Regions from separate parts of the Homo sapiens genome. Here regions 2 and 3 are each linked to region 1. The links come from fine-mapping of genetic effects on gene expression. A gene starts in region 1. Each other region holds a variant in brackets. All regions are shown on one strand. Distances are from middle to middle. Region 1 holds the start of TMEM8B (transmembrane protein 8B). Region 2 overlaps TMEM8B (transmembrane protein 8B). Region 3 has its middle 2.9 kb from the start of OR13J1.

Region 1 (4,239 bases):
GCCCCCAGAGCTCACTGATACCCATTCTCCACCCCCCAGCTGTTCTGTTGGCTGTTATTTCCAAAGACTCCATCAGGCACATCTCCATCCTATCTAGAGTGACACCCACCAGAGGTGGCTACAGACTTGGGCCATGAAGACTACAGTCACTCCATGATGGAGCCATCTTCATGGCACATCCCCTAGACCAGGACACCCCCTCCTCCTCCCACATTCCAACCATTAAAAAATTGGACCTCTCTCTCTTCTGTCCAAGTCACTTCCCCACCGGAGGGTGGCCCTTGGCTGACGCCTGGCAAATAAGGAACAGTTTGTGGATAAAGCACCCTTGTGGGCAGACCGGGGAGAAGGGAGGTTATGCTTTGAGCCTTTCCCCACTTGGGTCTATTTTTCTATTAAGTATACATTGCAGTGGATAAAAAAAAACACACTAGTATGAAATAGGAATTAGGAAACCTTTTTTCTAGCCCCAGCACACTGCCATTCACAAGCTCTCTGACTTTGGACAAATTGCTCCCTCCCTGAGCCTCAGTTTCCCCATCTGTAAAATAGCCTCCGAGTTTCAGCCCTGCTCTAAAAGTATCAGGAATTATTCCTAGGCAAATCAATCTTCTTTGGAACAAGAATCATTACAAGAAGAAAACTCATTATAATGGCAACTAATCCATATTCATCTATTTGCTACATATTATCTTTAAAACTCTTCTTCATGCCGTTTGAATGCATGCCCAATATCTCAAAGGTTTGGGCTATATATTCCCACACTACACTAGGGGCTTCTGGTGTGGGACTGTCTCTCCCCCATCAAACTTTGTGAGCAGGAGCAAAGCCCACAACATTTCCCTGGAAAAGCAAGAGTCAAAGTGGGGTCAGGACAGACACCAGAAAAAATCTTGGAGTCTCTGTGCTAGAAACTGTAAGCCACCTGCTGAGCCTCAAACCCAATTAATTACCACTCTTTTGACCCTGCCAATCCCTGTTGTGTAAGACCTCTCTACTCTCTATTTCTCCCACTTGCTCCCCAATGATCTAGTTCCCCAGGTCCCACCTCTCCTGAATCTCTCCAGCCCACCCCTCCCTGCCGGAACCCCATTCCTGCCTCAATCTTCCCTGCTTCTGCACTCACCAGCCCCTGGGCCAAGGACAGAGAACAGCAACAGCAGCAATAGGGCTGGCGGCAGCTGAAACCCAGACTTGAGTCTAGGCTGGGAGAGGGGCAGAGTATGAGAGATAGGGGGGACTAGAGGGAGAGACTTGGGTAAACACAGAGATGAGGGCAAAGGCTGAGATAATGGGTTGGGCTGGGCTGGACACTGGGGCTTGAACAAGGGCAGGGAGTGGGATGGAAGGAAGGGCTGTGATGGGGACTGCAGCAAGGGACGGGGTTGAGCCAGGGCCTTAAGCAAACACTGGGAATGGGGCTGGGACAGGGCCTGGGCTGGGATTTGTGACAGGGGGTGGAACGAGGGCCGAGGCCGGGATGGGGGCCAGGCCAGGGGCAGAGACTGGAAGGGGGTCCTGGATGGGGACCCAGGCAGGGGCTGGGGCCGATGTGGGAAGCGGGGCGAGGGCGGGGCTGGGGGCCAAGGCGGGGATTGGGATAGGACGAGGGGCCGGGACAAGGGCTGGGCCATGGCCCGGGGCGGGGGCGGGGCCGGACAGGCCAGCGCGGGGCGCTCGCAGAGCTGGCCCGCGGCTCCGCTCCCCACCCCCGGGGGGTGGCCTCCGGTGTCCTCGCGGGCCCGGGGCGGGGGCCGGGGACCTGGGTAGGAGTTCAGGCCTGGGCGACTCCGGGCTGCGCTGAACCGGCGATAACCAGGCCCCGCGGCGGCGGCCTCGACTTGACGTCGGCGTGACGCCCCGCCCCCCGGCCGGCTCGATTGGTCCCTGTCAGTAAAGCCCGCCCCCGCCCTACTCTATTGGTCCCCAACTTAGTCCTGCTGGGCTTCGAGGACACACAGACTCCGCCCCCGCCTCAGCTACCCGAGACCCTGCCTTTCTCACCCCAAGCACAGAGCCCGAGGTCCCCTCAGATCCTCACAGCCCCCAACGACCGCCCCACAGATGTCTCAAAGGAACCCTATCCTCACAATCCCAGACTCCCCCGGACGTACGCACAGATCTCCGCAGATCCTACCCAAACACTCGCTCACAGAGATCCCGCAACACACACCCCACTTTTCAGAAGTAAACCCTCTGGGCTCGCCCCCTCGAGGCCCAATGCAAGCCCCTCAGGAGACCTTACCCACCGGGGAGGTGACCAGACCGCCGTTGCCACGGAGACTACTAGGCGTTCCGGTTGCCCTGGTGACCGGCGCCTACTCTCCTGGCCCGGGTTCCGGAGGCTTCAGTCAAGACCCTCCCTCATTGGCCCTAGACCCCTTGTCCCTACCCACTTCCCCAGGTCATGCCAGAGCTCCTTTGCGAAGTTCTGCAGATATCCAAGTCCCCTTCCCAGATAGCAGACTTTCAGGCAAGGCATTTCAACACTCAGCACCTGCAGCTGAGGCACATCCACAACCAAGAGCCTTTCCTCCCTGAGGATCAACACCTCCCCCTGCCATCCTAAGTCAAGGTCTTGACCTAAGGACTTGTAACAACCAAGCCAAAGCCCAGAGGGTAGGTGGTTTCTCCAACGGCCCTTGCCCTCTTCCCTCAAAGACATCTGTCTTTCTCCCACCCCTCAGTCCCTTCACATTGTTGTAGTAGTAGTAGTAGTAGTAGTAGTAGTAGTAGTAGTAGTAGTAGTTGTTGTTGTTGTTGTTGTTGTTGTTGTTGTTGTTGTTGTTTGAGACAGAGTCTCGCTCTGTCCCCCAGGCTGGAGTGCAGTGGTGCGATCTGGGCTCACTGCAACCTCCGCCTCCCAGGTTCAAGTGATTTGCTTGCTTCAGCCTCCCCAGTAGCTGGGACTACAGGCGCCTGCCACCATGCCCAGCTAATTTTTGTATTTTTAGTAGAGACTGGGTTTCACCATGTTGGCCAGGCTGGTCTCGAACTCCTGACCTCAAGTGATCCACCCGCCTTGGCCTCCCAAATTCTGGGATTACTGGCATGAGCCACCATGCCTGGCCCACATTCTGTACTTTTCATCCTTACTCTCCTCCTCCACCCAATTTCCTCCTCCCCTTCTCTTTCCCCTTCCTCACCTCCCATCTTCTGGTTCTCCACTCTTAGGCCCCTTTTCTCTCTAGCTGACTCTGGTCATCTTCCTCCCTGTAATCCTACCTCTGCCCCTAATTCCCTTCCCAAACATCCCCTTCAAAAAGGCTCTGATGCATTTAAGGAGTGATATATCTAGCGTCTCTGGAACATGGGGGTAAAGTAGGGAGCACGGAAAGTTAAGGCAGGAATCCTCAGGCTGTGTTGAAAATGATGACAGGCCTTGAATGCCAGGGCCAAGAAATTTGGACTTAATCCTTTAGACTGAGTCATGGAATGTTTTTAAGCCACAAAGTGCCAGTTGTTGGGCTTGCACTTTAGAAAGATCCTGATTGGGTCAGGAAGGAGGACTACATCCTTGCAGGATAAATTAGGTATATCCCCCTCCCCACCGTATCCTAGACTCACCCCAGAACAACATCAATTTATTTGTATTGCCATTGTTGGTTAATCGGTCTCTCTCCTAGACTCAACTCAATCTAGAGCTTAGCACAGCGGGTCAGTAAAAGCATCAGATTAGGCTCATTGTAAAAGTATAAGTTACATAAATCCATGAAAGAATGGGTGAATGGATTAAAATGCTGTGGATGGAAGTAGAGGGGCAAAGTTATTACACAAAGGCTGAAGATGATGAGAACTTGAATAAAATTGGAAGGGAGAGGAGAGAATGCATTTGGGGAATATTTAGAAGATAGGAAATAGAGTTATTGGTGCCTATTTGAAGATGGAGTCTAAGGGAAAAGGAAAAGACTAGGATAATTCCCAAAGTTCAGTTTTGCTGTCTGTGGAAACACTCAGTTAGAAATGACCAGCAGGGGCCAAGCACGGTGGCTCACTCCTGTAATCTCAGCACTTTGGGAGGCCAAGCAGGGCAGATCACCTGAGGTCAGGAGTTCAAGACCAGCCTGACCAACATGGTGAAACCCCGTCTCTACTAAAAATATAAAACTTAGCCGGGCATGGTGGCACACGCCTGTAATTCCAGCTACTTGGGAGGCTGAGGCAGGAGAATCACTTGAACCCGGGAGGCGGAGGTTGCAGTGAACCGAGATTGCGCCACTGCACTCCAGTCTGGGCAAC
Region 2 (4,204 bases), 26 kb before region 1:
GTCGTATGTACAGATACATGCAAGGGTACAGCAATATCTGCCAGCCACAGCCCTGTATTCAAGGCAAGGAAGGGCTGTTTGAATCTTGGGATCTCCCCCACTGAGACAAGTCAGGAGACAACCAAGGATTCCCATTTTGGGAGCCTGGAGACAGGCCTGGTTCAGCGGCTACGTCCAGCACTGTCATATTGCTGGCCCCCTTCCCTCCGGGAATCCCACATGCACCTCAAACTGTCCAAAGTGGAGCTCATCTTCCCCCCACCCAAAGTGGTGTCACCATCTCAGGGAATGGCACCACCATCCCCAAATCAGAATATCACCATCATCCTAGGCTCTCTCATACCTCACCACCCCACACACCCAATCAGTCACCAAGTCCTAAAGAGTTCACTCCTAACAGCTCTTAAATTGGTCCCCTCCTTTCCACCGATATTGCTTTAAGAAGGCTTCACCATTTCTCTTTCAAATGTTCCAATAGCTGTGGTCACTGCACTTTGTCCTCCAAGGTCTCCCAAAGTCCATCCTCTGCCCCAGCCATCAAAACCCCAATCTGATGTTCCTCTCCTGCTTAATCTCTCCAATGGCTCCTCATTTCCCATAGAATAAAGACCCAACCTCCACTTATCTATCTAATCATATCATTGGCTGCTTACCTCCACCACCCCACTCCACACACAAAAGCATGCGCACATGCACTGGCCCAGGCACACTGAACTATTCAGTGCCCGGAGTAAATATCAGTCTTTCCTGCCTCTGCATTCCCCCTTGCTGTTCCCTCTCCATGTCCAAACACGTGGTGACCTTAAGCTAACATATATTGGACCACATCACATACCAGACTAGGCACTATACAAGTGTTCTAAGAGCTTTACTGACTGAAGACCACAGGGAGTGATGAAAATCTCAGGGAAGGGATGCCATGTGGACACTGGTGACCACAAAGAACACTCTCCCATTATCTTAGCATCATGGCAACTCAGCTAATCCTAGTTCAAATGTCCCTCTTCCCAGACGCCCCTCATGACCCCTCCTCACTGGGAGGGATGCACCCCAGCTCCGTCTCCCACTTCAGAGCCTTCTGTACTCTGCTGACTCTGTCCAGAATCCCAGCTATTTGGGTTCAAGCATCCCAGTGACCTGGCTCTATACGTCTTAATGTGGTATTTCTGATGTAGGAACAGTATTTTCTAAAATGGGAACAGACACCTAGCTCACACCTCCTCACTGCTTCTCACTACTCACTTGGCCACACCATTCTCTGCTCAGTGCCCCATGGAAGAGACGTGATTGCAGAAAGCAGATAACAAAGGCATGTTTTCCTGGCTTTTGGGTTTCAAAAGCCTAGGTCCTGAAGGGAACAGAAAAGGCTTAAGGCATAGATAAAAGATTCAGGAGAGGCCAGGCGCGGTGGCTCACAACTGTAATCCCAGCACTTTGGGAGGCCGAGGCGGGTGGATCACCTGAGGCCGGGAGTTTGAGAGCAGCCTGACCAACATGGAGAAACCCCATCTCTACTAAAAATACAAAAATTAGCTGGGCTTGGTGGTGCACACCTCTAATCCCAGCTACTCGGGAGGCTGAGACAGGAGAATCACTTGAACCCGGGAGGCAGAGGTTGCAGTGAGCTGAGATCGCACCATTGCATTCCAGCCTGGGCAACAAGAGCAAAACTCCGTCTCAAAAAAAAAAAGATTCAGGAGAAAACATTAAGTAAGGCTTCCTCACCTCCAATATTAACGAAAGGGGGAAAGAAGAGAGAGGAGGAGAGGATGTAGTGAGAATACTGACACAGAGGGTCCCAAAAGGAAGAGTCCCTGAGCTCCACACCCCAGGCCAAGATAGATTTGCAGTTTTAACAGATGCAGCAA[C/A]TCATGCCTTGTCTGTCAAAACCCAGAGCAGAAACAGCTTCAAGGTGTGTCTGCATAGCCAAGGCCTTAGACAACTTTACGGGTCTCCACATATGGCCCAGAAGTGGCAGAGAGAACCTTAGGACTGAGAGAGTAATGCAAATGGGAACAAGAAATCTCTCTGCATCCCAGATGAACTGTCTGGACCTCTGACTGGGGACCAGATGGAATGATGGAAATCCCGGGGATGGATGAAGTATGGACACTGGTGATCAGTGAGAATGCTCTCCCAACTTCTTGGCATTATGTAAGACCCTCAGAACTCAGCTATGACCCTCATGGAAAGAGAAGGAATCCCAAATGGACAAATGATCTTTTCTGGCACTCAGGAAAAATGGGGGCTCAAAACAGAAGTTACATTCTTGTGATATTTCTTGCACACCTGAGACGTGTACCTGCTATTCCAATTTCCTGGGACCTCGGCTTCCTTCTGTGTTGGGTGTGGGCATCATAAGGAAAGTCTGTCTCACTGATTTAAATCATCTCAGCATACGTATACATACATAAACACACACACACACACACACACCCCTCAGATACTGCAAATCGGGCTCAATAGGAATTGGGGAATAGGCATTAGAAACTGTTTAGAAATGAATGCAGGGCCCAGATGAGCGGGATCAGACTGTGTACAGGGTGTGACAAAAGCCTCCGGCAGTAGCTCCCATCAGCCCTGCTGATTCCCTGAGGGGCCCTCTTTCCCCACTTCCCCACACCCCTGACCCCAGGGGGAAAAAAGGCATCACAGAACCATTCTGAACCAATCAATCACTGGAGACACACAGACTCCACCTGTATCAAACGAGGATACCAGCCACCCAGACAGCCCCAGTCCCAGCTCCATCCATCCTGCAATCCCTCCTCCACAGCACAGCACAGCCCAGACGCTGCCTCTGGGAAGGAAGCCTGAGGCCAGAGTTGCTGAGCCTCTGGGAAAATCTGGAAATTTGGTTTCCCCAAGATAGACTCCACCTCCTCTGGAAAGATGCTGTGCTCCTGACAGGGCTTTGTCTCCCTGGGAAGGAATCCATGTCTTGGGAAGGCTCTGCATCCCAGGAAAGGCTCCACACCTGCAGGAGGGACTCCTTGGTCCTGAGGGACTCTGTGCCTGCATAGGCTCCAGTCCTTAAGAAGGACTCCATGATGCAGGGGGACTCCAGGCCCTCAGGAAGTTCTCCATGTCCTGGGAAGGGCTCCAGGTCCCTGGAAGAGTTTTGTGTCCTTGAGAAAGACTCCATGTCCTCAAGAAATACAGCCTGTCTCCTTCTAAGAGGGCTCCACACCCCCAGAAAGAACTCTAGGAAGCATTCATATCCCCTCAGGGCCAGGCCCAAAGCCCCTCTCAGCTGGCACAGATGCTGCTGACAGTGGCCCCTCCTGGGCCCACGAGGCCCAGCTCCTCCTGCTCGTTGATGCATAGCTGGTAACCACAGCCCCGGGCCCGGGCTCCAGATGGGACCCCGTGGTCAGTCTTGGCACGAGGGGGCAGCAGGAAGCCCACACTGCCCGCAATGAGCATATGCCAAATGCTGTGAATGTAGAAGTAGTTGTCCCGGGTCTCCACAAAAGCATAAAGCAGGACGGCACTGCCTGCAATAAGGCTGCCAGGGCACAAGTAGAAAAGCCAGCGGCGCCACGTGGGTGGGTAGCAGTGCCGGCGGCGGACGCTGCGTACTGTCTGGGGGAGACAGAGAAGTGGGGCTCAGGAATGCCAAGCCCTGGAACCCAAGCCAGAGCTGGTCACTCTCAGGTTTCCTCTGTATCCTGGTTGTGACCTAAAGACACCTGCCAAGACTGGAGCGGACACTGCCAGCAGCAGGTGATGACGACAGAGCCAAGCCCACCTTAAACTGGGGACCAGATACCTGGGGCCCAGCACCCAAGTCCTGCTGGGACCCTCCCCCCACATCCCTCCCCACCCTTACCCAGGCTGTGGCCAAGATCCCCAGGGCGAAGAGACTGGGTCCAAGCAGGTTCCAGAGTCCATGTCGGTCAAGCTGCAGAGCCATGGACAGCAGCATAGCTCCCAGCAAATACAGCACCTAGAGAAAGAGACTCAAGGGCTGGGCTAGGGCCAGGTGACAGACAGCACTCCAGGGCCTGGGTCAGAATCATGAGAGGCACTTGGAAATGCCCCCAGGGAGAGGTCAGGAGTGGATTTCAAGGAGACTTGGCCATGGTTGTTCCCCAGGGCCCACTCTGGACTGACCTGCTTGACCACGGGCTGTAAACGAGCCATGGCAATGACAGTGACCCACACGGACATTAAGGAGCCCAGGAAATCACAGAACTGCAGC
Region 3 (4,239 bases), 44 kb before region 1:
TGAAAGCAAGCAAATACAGACGGAAATTCAAATCCACATGATAGAACAAAGAGCACTGATAAAGGTAATTATATAATTATAAAAGGCAGTTTTAAGTGCATATTTCTTATTTCTTCTCCTATTTTTCAAAGAAATCATATAAAACAATATGTATATAATTATATTCTTGGAAAAAATGTATACTCTAAAAATTACAAAATATTGTTGAAAGAAATTAAAGAAGATCCGACTGGCTCATTGGCGCTGTCATGGCAGGTGTGCTGAAGAAGACCACTGGCCTCATGGGATTGGCTGTATGCAAGAGTCCACACAAGACAAGCAACTAAAATCAGTCTGCTAAAATGTAAGAGGCTAAGAATATTGTACACAAAGATCCTTGATGTTCTTAAGCAAACCCCTTAAAAAGCAGCACATAGAAAGTATACAGAACAGATTGCAGATGAGAAATTGGCTATGGTTAAAGCAGAACCAGATGTTAAAAAATTAGAAGACCAACTTCAAGGTGTTCAAATAAAAGAGGTGATTCTTCAGGCTGAAAATGAACTAAGTCTGGCAAGAAAAATGATACAGTGGAAATGATAGGAGATGTTCATGGAAGAGCCTCCTGCCAATCAATGGAAATGGCCAATGTAATTAATAAATGACTGGTGGGTTGATGGGAAAAATAATATAATTAAATATTCTGTTATATTAAGAGCATGCCCATATTATTGACATTTTATAATCAAGAAAAGTAATATAGAAAATGTTTAAGAGACTTAAAATTAGTGATTATGGTAGTACAGTATTGTGAATCAATTTTTGATTTGTAAAGTATTCACACAAATTATTACAAAGATGATATTTCTTAGAACAGAGAGGTCATGGAAAGACTTGAAAATTAATTTTAAAAAATCCTACAGATCTTCAATGCAGAGGCCATACTCCAAAAGTAAAGTTTCTTTAGTAGTATCTTCAATACATCATTAATTTTTTTATCATTCTGAAGAAGAAAAGGTCCTTAATTATTATTGTCTAAACAAATTTATAGATCACTGTTTAAAGTAAATATAGTAAGAGTGAATATTTTCAAATGTGATAAAATAGCACAAGTGGCTGGTAATAAAATTTGAAATTATAGTTAACCTCCTTGGCTGTGATCTTACGTATGTAAAGTAAAATGTAAATACATAATTAGGCCAGGTGCAGTGGCTCACACCTGTAATCCTAGCACTTTGGGAGGCCGAGGCAGTTGGATCATTTGAGATCAGAAGTTTGAGACCAGCCTAGCCAACATGGTGAAACCCCATCTCTACCAAAAATACACAAAAATTACCTGGGTATGATGGTGTGTGCTTGTGATCCCAGCTACTCGGGAGGCTGAGGTGGGAGGATCACTTGAGCCCAAAAGGCAGAAGTTGCAGTGAGCCCAGGTCACACTACTGCACCCCAGCCTGGGTATCAGAGCGAAACCCCATCTCAAAGAAAAAAAATTAAAATTAAAATAGGCTAAAGAGCCTATTTTTTTCTCCAAAGAAGATATACAAATACCCAATGAGCACTTGAAAATATGTTCAATGTCATTAGCCATTAGAGAAATGCAAATCAAAATCACAATTAGATACCACTTCACTCTTACTATGATGGTTATATATAAATATAAATTTTTTTTTTGAGACAGGGTCTCACTCTGTCACCCAGGCTGGAGTAGGGTGGTATGAACATGGCTCACAGCAGCCCTCAACCTTCTGGGCTCAAGCTATTCTCCTGCCTCAATCTCCCAAGTAGCGGAGACTACAGGCACATGCCACCATGCCCGGCTAATTTTTGTATTTTTTGTAGAGACGAGGTTTCACCATGTTGCCCGGGCTGGTCTCGAACTCCTGGTCTCAAGTGATCTGCCCACCTCGGCCTCCCAAAGTGCTGGGATTACAGGCGTGAGCCACCACACCCAACCAAGATGGCTATAATTTAAAAAGCAGATAATAACAATTGTTGGTGAGGATGTGGAGAAATTGAAACCCTCACATATTGGGGAAATGTAAAATGGGAAAGTAAAATGATACTTTCCATTTTGGAAACTGGCAGTTCCCCAAAAATATACACATAGAGTTTCTATATGACCTAGAAACTCCACTCCTAAGAAAATATCCAAGAAAAATGAAAATATACATCCACACAAAAACTTGTATGCAAATGTTCATAGCAGCACTATTCGTAACAGTCAAAAAGTGGAATCAACCCAAATGTCTATCAACTGATGAATGGGCACATAAAATGTGGTATATCCATACAACTGAATATTAATTAGCAATAAAAAGAAAGTAAGTCCTGATACATGCTACAATATAGATGAACCTTGAAAACATTAAGCTAAGTAAGAGAAACCAGTCACAAAGGGAAACATATTTTATAATTTCATTTATGTAAAATGTCCAGAATAGGCAGCTCAAAAGAGACAAAAAG[TAGA/A]TTAATGGTTTCCTAAGACTGGAGGAGGTTGAGGGGAAAAGGGGAGTGATGGCTAAAGGGTATGGGCTTCCTTTGGAAGTGATAAACATGTTCTAAAATCAACTGTGGTGATACTCAAAACTATTGCATTGTACACTTTAAATTCACCCGTTGTACACTTTAAACTCACCCATTTAAAGTGTACAATGCAATAGTTTTGTATTTGAATTGTACATTTTAAATGGGTGAATTTAAATGGGCGGCTGCATGGTGTTTGAATTATAGCTCAATAAAGATGCTATTTTTAAAAAGAACTAACCATTGATTCACACAACATGGATGACTCTCAAAATAATCACGCTGAGTGAAAGAAGCCAGATTTTAAAAAGAGTACATTCTGCATAATTCCCTTTATGTAAAATGCTAGAAAATGAAAGTAATCTACAGTTACAGAGAGCAAATCAGTGGCTGCCTGGTTGGGGAAGAAAGGAATGGATTACCAAGGGGCATGAGAAAAATTGTGGGTATATTAGATAAGTTCATTATCTTGATTGTGGTCATGGTTTCATGACTGTATACATTAAAACTAATCAAATTATATGATTTAAATATAGTTGTACATCAACCATCCTTCAATAAAGCTGCAACAAAAAAGCATACTAAAAAGTCACAAGACCTATTTCCATGTATAGATATACATATGCAAATGGCCAGAAAAGTATCTGGATAGATATACACAAAACTAATAACAATAGTTACTTTTGGAAAAGTGGGAGAGTGGGAAGGGTGGGTGAGGCTGGGTATGGAAGAGTGAGGGAAGGGTGAGGCTGGGTATGGGAGAGTGGGAAGGGTGGGTGAGGCTGGGTATGGGAGAGTGGGGGGAGGGTGAGTCTGGGTATGGGAGAGTGGGAAGGGTGGGTGAGGCTGGGTATGGAAGAGTCAGGGGAGGGGGAGGCTGGGTATGGGAGGGTGGGGGAGGACAAGGATGGGTATGGGAGAGTGGGAGGGGTGGGTGAGGCTGGGTACGGAAGAGTGGGGGGACGGTGAGGCTGGGTATGGAAGACTTGGGGGTCCTCTCTGCCTAGGAAGGGTTTGCACTCAGCAGCCTGGGAGCACACCTGTCATCAGTGCTCCCTCACATCTGGCACCACCTGACATGTAGCAGGTCCTCAGTTACTTCTAGGTTCTGGGATGAGTAAGTGAGGGTGGAATAAAAGACGGAAATGGTCTCCTGCAAGGAAGGCACTGAGAGGAACTGTGCTCCACCCAGGCCCAGGATTTGGCATCGTGTCCCATGGGATTAATGACACCGTGCCAGATACCCTGGAACACTAAGGAGAGGTGACTCATGCTCTTTTGCTGGTGAGAGGATTGTGGCAGCACCTGGGGCACTGATATCCATCTAGAATGGTAAAAGAACAAGCATTGTTTGAAACCTAATAGAAGCATACACCTGCTCTGAGCATGGTATAGGGGTCACACTGTTGGGAGGGCTGGATTCTAGCTTCACCTCACCAGAGACCTGTTGTGTGACCTCAGCATCCCCATCTATACAATGGGAGATCCAACAAGTTGGCCTCTGGTCATGTTCCATGCTAATACCCTAGGAGTTCATGAAGTCAAAGCAGCCCTCGCTCTGGCCCACAGAACATAGGGGTTTGGAGCTGGGCCAAAAGCTCCATCAGATTTTAGCTGGGAAACCCACAGGAAGGCAGATTGTGAAGGTCCAATCCACACAGGGTAGCTAATGAAACAGGCCCTGGGCAGGGGACAGGGGAACATGCCCAGCGATAGGCTTCAAGGTCAGCAGCC

Evidence for each region. PIP is the estimated chance that this variant, and not a neighbour inherited with it, causes the effect. A credible set is the group of variants that fine-mapping cannot tell apart.
Region 2: its variant is the best candidate, but not a certain one, in a credible set for the expression of TMEM8B in nasal epithelium (TOPMed, PIP 0.62).
Region 3: its variant is the best candidate, but not a certain one, in a credible set for the expression of TMEM8B in monocytes (TOPMed, PIP 0.80).

What each region holds. Positions count from the first base shown.
Region 1 is chr9:35,826,843-35,831,081 of GRCh38, reverse strand. TMEM8B (transmembrane protein 8B) reads right to left here and starts at 1,854. Exons shown (of 13, transcript NM_001042590.4): 1 at 1,127-1,854. The coding sequence starts at 1,634. It overlaps FAM221B (family with sequence similarity 221 member B), which reads left to right and starts at 2,350. Exons shown (of 7, transcript NM_001012446.4): 1 at 2,350-2,619. RefSeq lists an enhancer at 762-1,262 and a silencer at 1,548-1,997.
Region 2 is chr9:35,852,886-35,857,089 of GRCh38, reverse strand. TMEM8B (transmembrane protein 8B) reads right to left here. Exons shown (of 13, transcript NM_001042590.4): 11 at 4,117-4,204; 12 at 3,833-3,949; 13 at 1-3,585. The coding sequence ends at 3,250. Among named protein-coding and RNA genes, the nearest start is that of OR13J1, 15 kb to the left of the region's middle. The variant C/A (reference allele first, on the strand shown) is at 1,869.
Region 3 is chr9:35,871,204-35,875,442 of GRCh38, reverse strand. It overlaps the pseudogene NDUFA5P4. Among named protein-coding and RNA genes, the nearest start is that of OR13J1, 2.9 kb to the right of the region's middle. The variant TAGA/A (reference allele first, on the strand shown) is at 2,446.